Regions from separate parts of the Homo sapiens genome. Here region 2 is reported to be linked to region 1. The links are microRNA targets in miRTarBase. Many come from high-throughput screens and were not tested one by one. Region 1 holds a microRNA gene; the other region holds the end of a gene's coding sequence.

Region 1 (5,239 bases):
CCCTTCCTATGAACTCTAAATAAAGCAGATTTATTGCATATTCTGTGGCCCTCTGTTTTAGCACATTGGAAACCTTAGACTCAAATAGCAGTGAAAGGATAGTTATTGCTGAGCTCAGAAGTCTTCCCTGCCAAAGGTAGAATGTAATGTGTTCTGTGGTAATAGGATTATTTTGTTTGACCAGGTGACACTGTTTATTTCTTATGAAAAATTTTGATATACTGCTTTAAAATTTAGTAAGATGGATGCATAATTTATGCAGTGAAATTTGAAAGGTTTTTCAAAATGATAAGGCCAAACCTAAGCTAAATGAGGGGGTAGGCATTCTTTATAATAAAGCTGTTATACTCTGCCCAGCTAGGCCAGTTATCCCTAGATGCTACAGATTAATGGGGCAATCTGTGTTATGTAACATTTGTTCTATATTATTCTGCCTCTAATGAGGTGAATCAAAGACGATGTCAGTTTTAATTCTGGATGCCCTTGCTTCAGTATAGTATAATACATAGGTACAGCCTTTTTTAGTAGTTTTCAGATGGCTTCTTTATGTTTTTATATTGAAGAACCACTAACTTCCCATTGGCCTATAAGGTTAGCAATTGATTATTTATAGCAAATGGCTTGAAATGTTAGATCATCAGTATTTGTCAATAAGCCTGTAATAACTTGTTTCCCTAGCCCTTAACTTAGTGTTGAAGAAAAAAATTGTGGTATTCATTGATAGGACTTAGAAAGCACAGAAATTACTTATTATTTAAGATTTGTTCTACCAATTGATATTTAAAGTAAAACATTTTTAGTTACTGAACACCATTCTGTAAATGACAGTATTTTATCCTGAGTATATGGTCTGAAATGACTTAGGGACAACTTTTTAAAGCAAATAACTAATTACAAAATTGGGTCTTCCAATTTATTTCAAATTAGATGCTTTTGTACAAATATTCTTGGTTAGAAATAGTCATATAAATACACTGTTGGACTTGTTCTCATTGATCTCCACACCTCAGTTCCTTCTACATGAGTCATGGGCTTGAGGTTACCCAGAAATGGACTGTGAACCTATAAACCCCAGCATGCATGTGGTATTGCGTCGAGCATGTTCTGTGATTCCCTTCTACTCTTGTTACAGCTTTATTCATTGGATCAATGTGCATTATTTGCTGTGTGTGCTCAGGTAATATTTTTGTTTCTTTTTTTTAGTTTGAATATCAGTTTGGGCTTAGTTACTTTTTAAAATAAGGCTGTTTCAGATAGTCTCTGCCACACTTTGCCTAGCCTGGTTAATTGTGGGTGGACCCATGCTACATGTTTTGGCATTGCCTTTTTCTTATCTGTACCATATTACAAACTTCCTAGTAATTTGACATTCACTGCTGTCTTTGCTTTAGCTTTCCAACAGGTTTGGTGAAACAGTCCATTGCTGTTCAATATCAGCTTGCATCAGAATTACTTGGAGGGCTTATTGATTAAAACACAGATTGCTGGGCCCTGCAAAAAAAGTTTCTGATTCAGTAGGTCTGGGGTGGAACATAAGAATGTGCTTTTCCCCCCACAGTTCCCAAGTACTGCTGATGCTGCTCCTCTAGGCCCATGCTTTCAGAATCACAGAGCTCATCTTACATTCTTTTCCTGCTAGATATTATGCCCAATTAATACATGAAGTAAAACAGAAAAATCCTTAACTTAAAAACATGTATTAATCCAGAAGTTTGATTATAAAAAGGTTTGTTGAAAATGTGAGACCATTTTTTCTCCCAGAGAAAAAGTATATTAATTGTCTAGCTGGGAGGGGCCTATTTGAATGTGTTTTCAGAGAAAAGCAGAAGAAAAAAATACGGTTGTAATAGAAGTAGTTAAAACAGAAAAGCAGTATGGTTGTAGAGTGGGGTGGCGGGGAGGTATATGTGTATTTAATCTTGAGAACCAATGCTTTTGGAAAACAGCCCGAAGGGACAAGAGACTAGGTAGAGACTGGCGAGGTTCCTGAAAGTCCTGGGTTACCTGTGAAATGCCAAAGATTTTTAAAGTTTGCTGGCAGTGGTTATTATATGTAGTTTTACTTCCAAATTTGAAGATTTCCTCTTCTTTGATGCAAGTGTGTTGGTAGGACCACTGATAATAGTTAGTGGAGATATTTGTGGGAATATATTTTTAATCAGAAAGAATGCAAAAAGAGGGGGAGACATTTCTTTGAGACACCTTAATGACACTGGGAACAGTAGAAGGTGGAAAGAGATCAGAGTGTGGGAAAGATGTGCCTGAGATGAAATTATCTGAATTCTGAATGTGGGGGAGAAGATGAGGAGAGGGTTGAGGGGGAGGAGAGATGACTAAGCTCCTCACAGTGTTTCATTAACTGTCTTTTACCTAAAGGAGGAATCTTCTTAATGAAGATTGGTTGATGCATCATACTGGTCATCAAGTAAGTTCTTATAAATGCAAGTTTGATTGTTTTGAAGGGAAGGATATAGGAAGGCTGGATAATCAGCTACATTTAGATATGGAACACTACAGGATGTCGGCATTTATTGTTGTAAATTCCTTTGGTGAAAAACGTTATCACTTGTTTGTGACTAGCCTGGGCAATATAGTGAGACCTTGTCTCTAAAAAAAATTTTATTAATAAGAAAAATTAGCCGGGCATAGTAGCGTGCCTGTAGTGCCCCCCACTGCCCTGGACACGCCCCCACTTCCAAAAAAACAAACACCCAACTCACTTCTGCCTTTTCCTTGGATTCTACACTTTCTCTCAGGATATCTTTCCGATTGAGTCTTGCCTCATTTATGTGAATGCTGTGCCTGTTCTTTTTTTCAACAGAGTCTTACGTAAAGAACCGTACAAACTTAGTAAAGAGTTTAAGTCCTGCTTTAAACCAAGTTTCAGTTCATGTAAACATCCTACACTCAGCTGTAATACATGGATTGGCTGGGAGGTGGATGTTTACTTCAGCTGACTTGGAATGTCAACCAATTAACATTGATAAAAGATTTGGCAAGAATAGTATACAGAGGCTTGAATTTTTAATGTAATTAATGTAATTAAAGGTTTGTTGGAAATGTGAGACCATTTTGTTCTCCCAGAGAAAAAGTGTGTTAATTGTCTAGCTGGCAGGGATCTACTTGAATATGTTTGCAGAGAAAAGCAGAAGAAAGCATGGTTGCAGTAGGAGTAGTTAAAACAGAAAAACAGTATGCTTATAGAGGAAAAATTACTCTAAATTTATTAAAATTCCTTTAAATTTGTTACTCAATTTAAATTTTTATTGTATCTTTTCAATTTTGCTATAGCACTAACATGACATAAGGCTCTGGGTATTGGGACAAAAGAATGCCCTTGTTTGGTAGTTGGGGTCGGGTTTGTAGTATTGCAGTGTGCTTTAACAAGCATGGGCTTTGACATCAGACATTTGTTGCCATCTGGACTCCACAAGTGAATTTGCTACGGGATTTGGAGGAGGGAAAGGCACTGTTTCCATACCTCAGTGGTTTTCTCATCTGTAAAATAAGTATGTGATTGCATGGATTGACTTACATGATGAATATAAAGTTGTTCATTAGTACAGTACCTGTCATATTAAGTACTCAATAAATGCTAGTTATTATTAATGCTGTGTTGTAGGTGTTCAGTAAATAGTTGCCATAATGCTTAAAGCAGACATAACTTGTTTTTATTTTTGCAATAAAGATGATGCCAACTTTTTGGTTTAATGGAAATGCTTTGAATCTTTGATATTGTTGTAATATAGTGGCAAAGAATTTTGAATCCCAGCTTCTGGAGCTCATATCTTGATTCTGCGAGTTACTTCGCTATGTTACTTTGGGGGAAGTTATTAATCTCTCTGTGCCTCAGTTTCCTCAGTCGACTAAATTGAAATTATAATAGCACCTACCTGATAGGATTGTTGAGACTAAATGAGGTAACAATTTAAAAATAAGCTAATACCTGATAATTAGTTCTATATATGTACTGATTGGTCTAAACGTTATTTCCATTTTCATGTCTTTACTTAAAATACTGAAAATTAATTTTTTATAGCTTTGTTTTTCAGTTCCATGAAATCAGCCTGCCTTTTCTTTTTTTGGTGATACATCCACATTCTGTATAGGTGAAAAGCAAAACAAACAAGTATAAAACGAAAATTATGTAAGAAGTACACACATCCTAGCAGCTTGGCAAGTGTCTGTATGCTCTTGCCTGTGCCTAAATCCAGAATTAGAATTCATGCTTGGTGCTCCTGTGGAAGATGTCTAAATGTTATGAGAAATACATGATTAAATAAAAATGTGAAATGAAAGCATGGAGACTTGTTGAAGGTGAGTGCTGTTTTTCTAATTATATATTTTATTTGTTTAATGAATAATTTGTTAATTTTCTTTGTCATTACGAGAGAGCTGTTTTATTCTGTACTTAGGTGCATAGCATACTATGTTTTAGTGAGCTCCACATGTTAATTTGAAACTTGCCAAATTTTTACATTATTTTATAATTTATAGTACTTTGAGAAACATATTGCAATGCATTACAAAGCATATAATGTAAAGGTAGTTTTATGAAGTGTTTTTCTCCCAAATTAAGCATATTTGGGAATTGCCCATCAATTTGTTTTTGAACCTCAGTGCATAAAATATAGAATTTTTCTTTCATATGCTAGATGTGAAAAATACTCAGCATATGCATGTGGTTTAGGCTACAAAATAGCCTGTAGGTTAAATTCCTAATTCTAGTGTTTAATTCATTGCCTTTTTTCTTCTTGTTTAATGGCCATATGTTTATATCTTTATATTACATACATTCCTGATTATGTAATAAGGTCTTTGATCATGTGGGCTATCAGATTTGCCTCACTTTGTCTCTTAGAAGAAGCTATACATGAAACTATGTTGTACTTAAGTGAAAATTTGAGTATTTTTCTTGTTTGAATTAATGCAGTGAAACATTCTACTTACAGTTAGCTGTCTCCCACCCTTACAGGAAGGTACATGCCTTCATTTTTTAAAACACTGTATATTTATTAGAATTGTTACAGAATTTTAGTAAATATATTCTAATCACATATTTTCTGATTAATGTGTGCTTATCAGTTTTAAATGTTATGAAATCTGGATATATGTTAAAATGTCTCAGTTTTCCCCTCTTGTTTACCATATTGCCATTTGGTATTAATAGATAACATAATGTAAAATTGGATGTCTTTGATAATTTTGGGATATGTTCTGAAATTAAACTTGAACTTTT
Region 2 (5,239 bases), not on the chromosome of region 1:
AGATGAATATTAGTTACCACATTATATTTAAGCAAGCACAATTTTTTTCCAGTAGCTCAAATGCCACGTTAGGATCCCTTGTGTGATGCTAATCTAGAGTTTCCTTCTTCTGAAAACACATCTCCCACCCTCACACTGCCCCCTACTAGTGTTACTGTGTCCACATTTTTACCAAAAGGCAGTGCTTGGCTGCATTCAGTTTGAATCCAAAATCTGATAGTGCTCTTTCCAAATGATGGTATCGGACACAGCTACAATTTACTGAGTCCCTAGAATGTGTCAATGGTGGCAGTGACTTCACAGATATCAAAACCTTATAGGATGCCATTGATCACTGTATCTCCAGGGCCCAGCACAATGCCTGTCACATAAACATTTGAATAAATGAGTCTCAGAAAAGTTAGAAAATGTCTCCAGGGTCACAGAGAAAATCTGTTAGCAGAAAAGAATCTGAAGCTAGGTATGCCTGACAAGATGGCTCAAGCCATGCTACCCAAAAGGAAAAAGTAGAGTCCTCATTATAAAATCTAGAAGACGGAGATTGTATATTTTTTTTTAATTTAAATTTTAATTTTTTTTAGACACTTTTTCGCCCATCCTGGAGTGAAGTGCAGTGGCACTATCTCAGCTCACTGCAACCTCTGCCTCCCAGGTTCAAGCGATTCTCCTGCCTCAGCTTCCCGAGTAGCTGGGATTACAGGTGCACGCCACCAGGCCCCACTGATTTTTGTATTTTTAGTAGAGATGGGGTTTCACCATGTTGGCCAGGCTGGTCTTGAACTCCTGGCCTCAAGCAATCCACCCGCCTCAGCCTCCCAGCGTGCTGGGATTACAGGCACGGCCACCATGTGTGGCCAGATAGAGATTTTATATGGAAAAAAATCTAAAAGAAAAACCGCCAAGGACTTAAGATTGATTACACAAAGCCCAAAGCAGTTAGGCCAGAGCAGGGCCTTAGCATGGAGCCATCAGAAAGAAACCAATTACAGGATCCTAGCAGCTGGAGGCAGATCTTTGGCAGAGTATTTCAAAGGGAAGCAAGGCATCCTCAACAAGACAATGAAGTGATGAGCAAATACGTAAGCAGCAACTTAAAAGATTTGATTTACAAGTGATAACATGACCACATCAAGGAACAAGAACATGGAATGCTTTAAAAAGAATTGGTATAACCTGGACAATGAAAACAGAGAAATCCTTGAGGAGGAGGAACTATAATTTTACACTTATGCCTATATTAGGTATATCAGCAGTCCCCAACCTTTCTGGCACCGAGGACCACTTTCGTGGAAAACAGTTTTTCCACGGATGATGAGGGGGAGATGGCTGTGGGATGAAGCTGTTCCACCTTATATCATCAGGCATTAGATTCTCAGTAGGAGTGCACAAACTAGATCCTCGCATGCGTAGTTCACAATAGGGTTCATGCTCCTATGAGACTCTAATGCCACCGCTGATCTGACAGGAGGCAGAGCTCAGGCGGTAATTCTCGCTTGCATGCCGCTCAACACCTGCTGTGCAGGCCGGTTCCTGACAGGTGATGGACTGGTACCTGTCCATAGCCCAGGGGTTGGGGACTCCTGAGCTATATAGCAAAATGAACTCAGACTGGCCACTCCCAACTAATTTTGTTATTTTCATCTCATACAATCTCAAGAATGCCTCTAGATATTTTATTTACCTGGTCTAGATGGTCCTGAACTATCACAGCCACGACTGAACAAATCAGAATAAGCAGAACCTTGGAAAATGTTTTAGCAACGACTTTTTTCTCTCTGAATATTCAAAACATTGCAATACAGTCCTTAAAGAGTTGAGATGATACAAGGTTTGTAAATAATCTAGTTGAATGCTTAGCACACAATAGCTAATACACATTAGTTTCTCCCCTTCCTCATTCTGGAACTGGGATTGTTTCCACTTTTAGGCTATTATGAATAACGCTGCTATGGACATTTGTGCACAGGTTTTTATGTGGATATAAGTTTTCATTTATCTTGGGTATATACCTGGGAGAGGAATTGCTGGATCATATCGTAACTCTACATTTAACCATTTGAAGAACTACCAGACTTTTTCCAAAGTGGCTGCCCCATTTTACATTCCTACCAGCATGTTATGAGAATTTCAATTTCTCCACATCCTCATCAATACTAGTTATTATCTTTTTGATTGTAGACATTGGGTGTCTTGTGGTTTTGATTTGCATTTTCCTGATGAGTAATAGTACTGAAAATTTTTAAATGTGCTTCTTGGTCATTTGTATTTCTTCTTTGCAGAAAAGCCTGTTGAGCTATTTTGCCCATTTCAAAGTTGTCTTTTTATAATTGAGTTACGAGTTCTTTATATACCACCAAGATACAAGTCCCTTATCACATTTATGATTTGCAAATATTTTCTCCCATTCTGTAAGCTGTCTTTTCACTTTCTTGATGGTGTCATTTCAAACAACAGTTTTTAGTTTTGATGAAGTCCAGTTTGTGTATTCTCTTTTGTTGCCTATGCTTTGGGTATATTTAAGAAATCCTTGCCTAATCCAAAGTCACAAAGATTTACGTCTATGTTTTCTTCTAAGAGTTTTATAGCTTTAGCTTACATTTAGGTATTTGATCCATCTTAAGTTACTTCTTAAATATCATGTGAAGTAGGAATCAAATGTCACTCTTTTTTACATAGATATCCAATAGATCCAGAAGACAGTTGGTTCAAAGACTGTTTCCTTTTCCCATTGAATTGTCTTGGCACTCTGGTTTAAAATCAACTGACCATAAACGTGAAGGCTTTTTTTCTGAATTCTCAATTCTATGCCATTGATCTATATTGACCTATATGTCTACCTTTATACCAGTACAACACATTCATTACTGTAGTTCTGTATACTTAAAATCAGGAAGGGTGGGTCATTCAAACTCTTTCAAGATTCTTCCTAATATTCTGTGTTCCTGAAATTTCCATATGAATTTTAGAATCAGCAAAGAAACCAGCTGGAATTAATGGGAATTACATTTAACCTGTAGATCAGTTTGGGGAGTATGGTCATCTTATGTCTTCTGATTCATGAACATGGAATGTATTTCCATTTATTTAGAGGTGTACAGAAATACAATTGAGGCTGAGTATGGTGATTCACACCTGTAATCCCAGCACTCTGGGAGGCCAAGATGGGTGGATCGCTTGAGGCCAGGAGTTCATGACTAGCCTGACCAACAAGGGAAAATCCCATCTCTACTAAAAATACTAAAAATTAGCCAGGCATGGTGGCACACACCTGTAATCCCTGCTACTCAGGTGGCTGAGGCATGTGAATTGCGTGAACCTGGGAGGCAGAGGTTGCAGTGAGCCAAGATGGCGCCACTACACCCCAGTCTCGACAAGAGTGAGACTCTGTCTCAAAAAAAAACAAACAAACAAAAACAAAATGCAATGATCATTGCACATTGGTCTTGTATTCTACGACCTGGATGAACTCGCTTTATCAGTTTTAATAGTTTTCTAGTGGATTTCTTAGAATTTTTGATGCATACAATCTTGTCATCTGCAGACACCATTTTCCTTTTCAATCTGGATGCCTCTCTAGAATTTTTGAGTGCGACCTAAATTAATGCATGACTTAATATTTGGTGGTATTAAAGTCAATATTGCATAGATTCAAAACAAAAGGGGGAAAAGTGCTATAGAAGGAAAAAATAGAAAAATAAAAAAATTAGCAGGCAAGAAAACTGATTCCCACAGGATTATTAGTTAGCTACGTGATCCTGGGCTAGTTTCTAATCCTTTTGGTTATACATTTGATTTTCCAAATCTTTTTCCACCCGATATACCTGTGAACTTCTGGGGATACATAAGGAGTTACTTTGCTCAGTTTATTCAGCCATTACGAGCATGATTTTTACTAAACATACTGACATCTTCTCTCCTTTTCTATTTTTGCCCCTCAAAAGAGACTAAGACACCAAAAGTGGAAGAGCACACTAAAGGTATCTTCAAACTGAGGGAGAATATAACTCTTAGGAAAAAGAGTTATAATGGAACACCTTGCATGGCCTTCCAAAGTGGAAGAGCACACTAAAGGTATCTTCACACTGAGGGAGAAAATAGCTTTTAGGAAAGCGAGTTATAACGGAAGACCTTGCAAGGCCTTAAAAGAATGAAGAGAAGTATAAAGAATTATCCTCTTGGGAACAAGCTGGAATATAAATACTTTAGAGGCTTGTGGAAGAAAAAGTAAAAATGAACAATCAGATGAAGTATTTACTCTGTCAAGTACTATACCAATATTTTAAAACTACAATTAAGGAATAGTAAGGACATAATGACATACATTATCAGAAGTTTTCAATACAGAGGATCTTTTAAAACCAGAGTTTTAGGTGACTTTTTAAAAATTACAACTTTGATTAAAATGGCAAGTGTTTCATGACACAGAGAACATTAAAATTTTTACCACACATGAACTAGATACCTTCCCTCTGTCTCTGCTATTGCTGATAGTACTAAAATAGTTAAGTTATACCTAAGTGTTTTAAATTTCAAGTGCTTTGGAATCTTAGTTTTAATCTCTGGCGTAAAGGAAGAGGGCTATCCAAACAAGTACCAGAGTTGTTTTCTTTCTTATGACATTGTAGAGAACTCAGAGAACTTTTTGTTGAATCTGGGAAACAGCTTTCTTCATTTTCAGCTGTTTCATAAGATCTGACACACTGTTCAGTTTCTTTAATATGTATCTTAGGGCTACTCAACTTGTTATGGCCACTTTCTTTGAAATGGGATGAATTATGCTTTTGAGAACTGTGCTTCATTCTTTGAGTTGTGTACTTAGCTTTCCCAAACACTGGGGCACTTTGTTCATCAGAGGAATGTCTGTCAAGGCAAACACTCTTCTTCATTAAAATTTTCCGAGTGGTTTGCATATCAACTTTTCTACTATGATCTAAAGCAGTATTTGGTGGTCTAACATTGCAGGTCTTTACCACTGTGTTACTGACAGAATAAGGGACAGAAGTATTGACTTTATAGTCTTCTTGAAGCAGCTGGTCTCCTTTTAGAATTTTAGAGTCTCTGGATTCATTTTGCAAGGGAATTCCTGGAAGATCCTTTGAAAGATGTGATGTACAATCAGAACCACTGTTAGCAATACAAGATTCTTTTACACTAAGTATGGACAAAGTTTTCAGGTTGACATCTGGTTGTAGATTATCCTGAGGATATGATAATTTTGTAAATATTCGTTCCTTTAAAG

What was found. Region 1 holds the annotated microRNA hsa-miR-30b-3p (CUGGGAGGUGGAUGUUUACUUC, at 2,930-2,951, shown strand). A microRNA usually pairs through its seed, bases 2 to 8, with sites in the 3' UTR of a target mRNA and lowers its output. Matches are read on the target gene's strand: a 7mer-m8 pairs with bases 2 to 8, a 7mer-A1 pairs with bases 2 to 7 and ends in A, and an 8mer does both.
Region 2: the mRNA of GEN1 is a reported target of hsa-miR-30b-3p. Seed matches in the 3' UTR shown: 7mer-m8 at 3,318-3,324 and 7mer-m8 at 3,150-3,156.

What each region holds. Positions count from the first base shown.
Region 1 is chr8:134,798,244-134,803,482 of GRCh38, reverse strand. MIR30B (microRNA 30b) reads left to right here and starts at 2,876; the gene lies at 2,876-2,963. It also overlaps a transcript of ZFAT not described here.
Region 2 is chr2:17,781,230-17,786,468 of GRCh38, reverse strand. GEN1 (GEN1 Holliday junction 5' flap endonuclease) reads right to left here. Exons shown (of 14, transcript NM_001130009.3): 14 at 1-5,239. The coding sequence ends at 4,530. All of the region lies in intron 3 of LOC105373449 (a long non-coding RNA gene), which reads left to right. Among named protein-coding and RNA genes, the nearest start is that of GEN1, 30 kb to the right of the region's middle.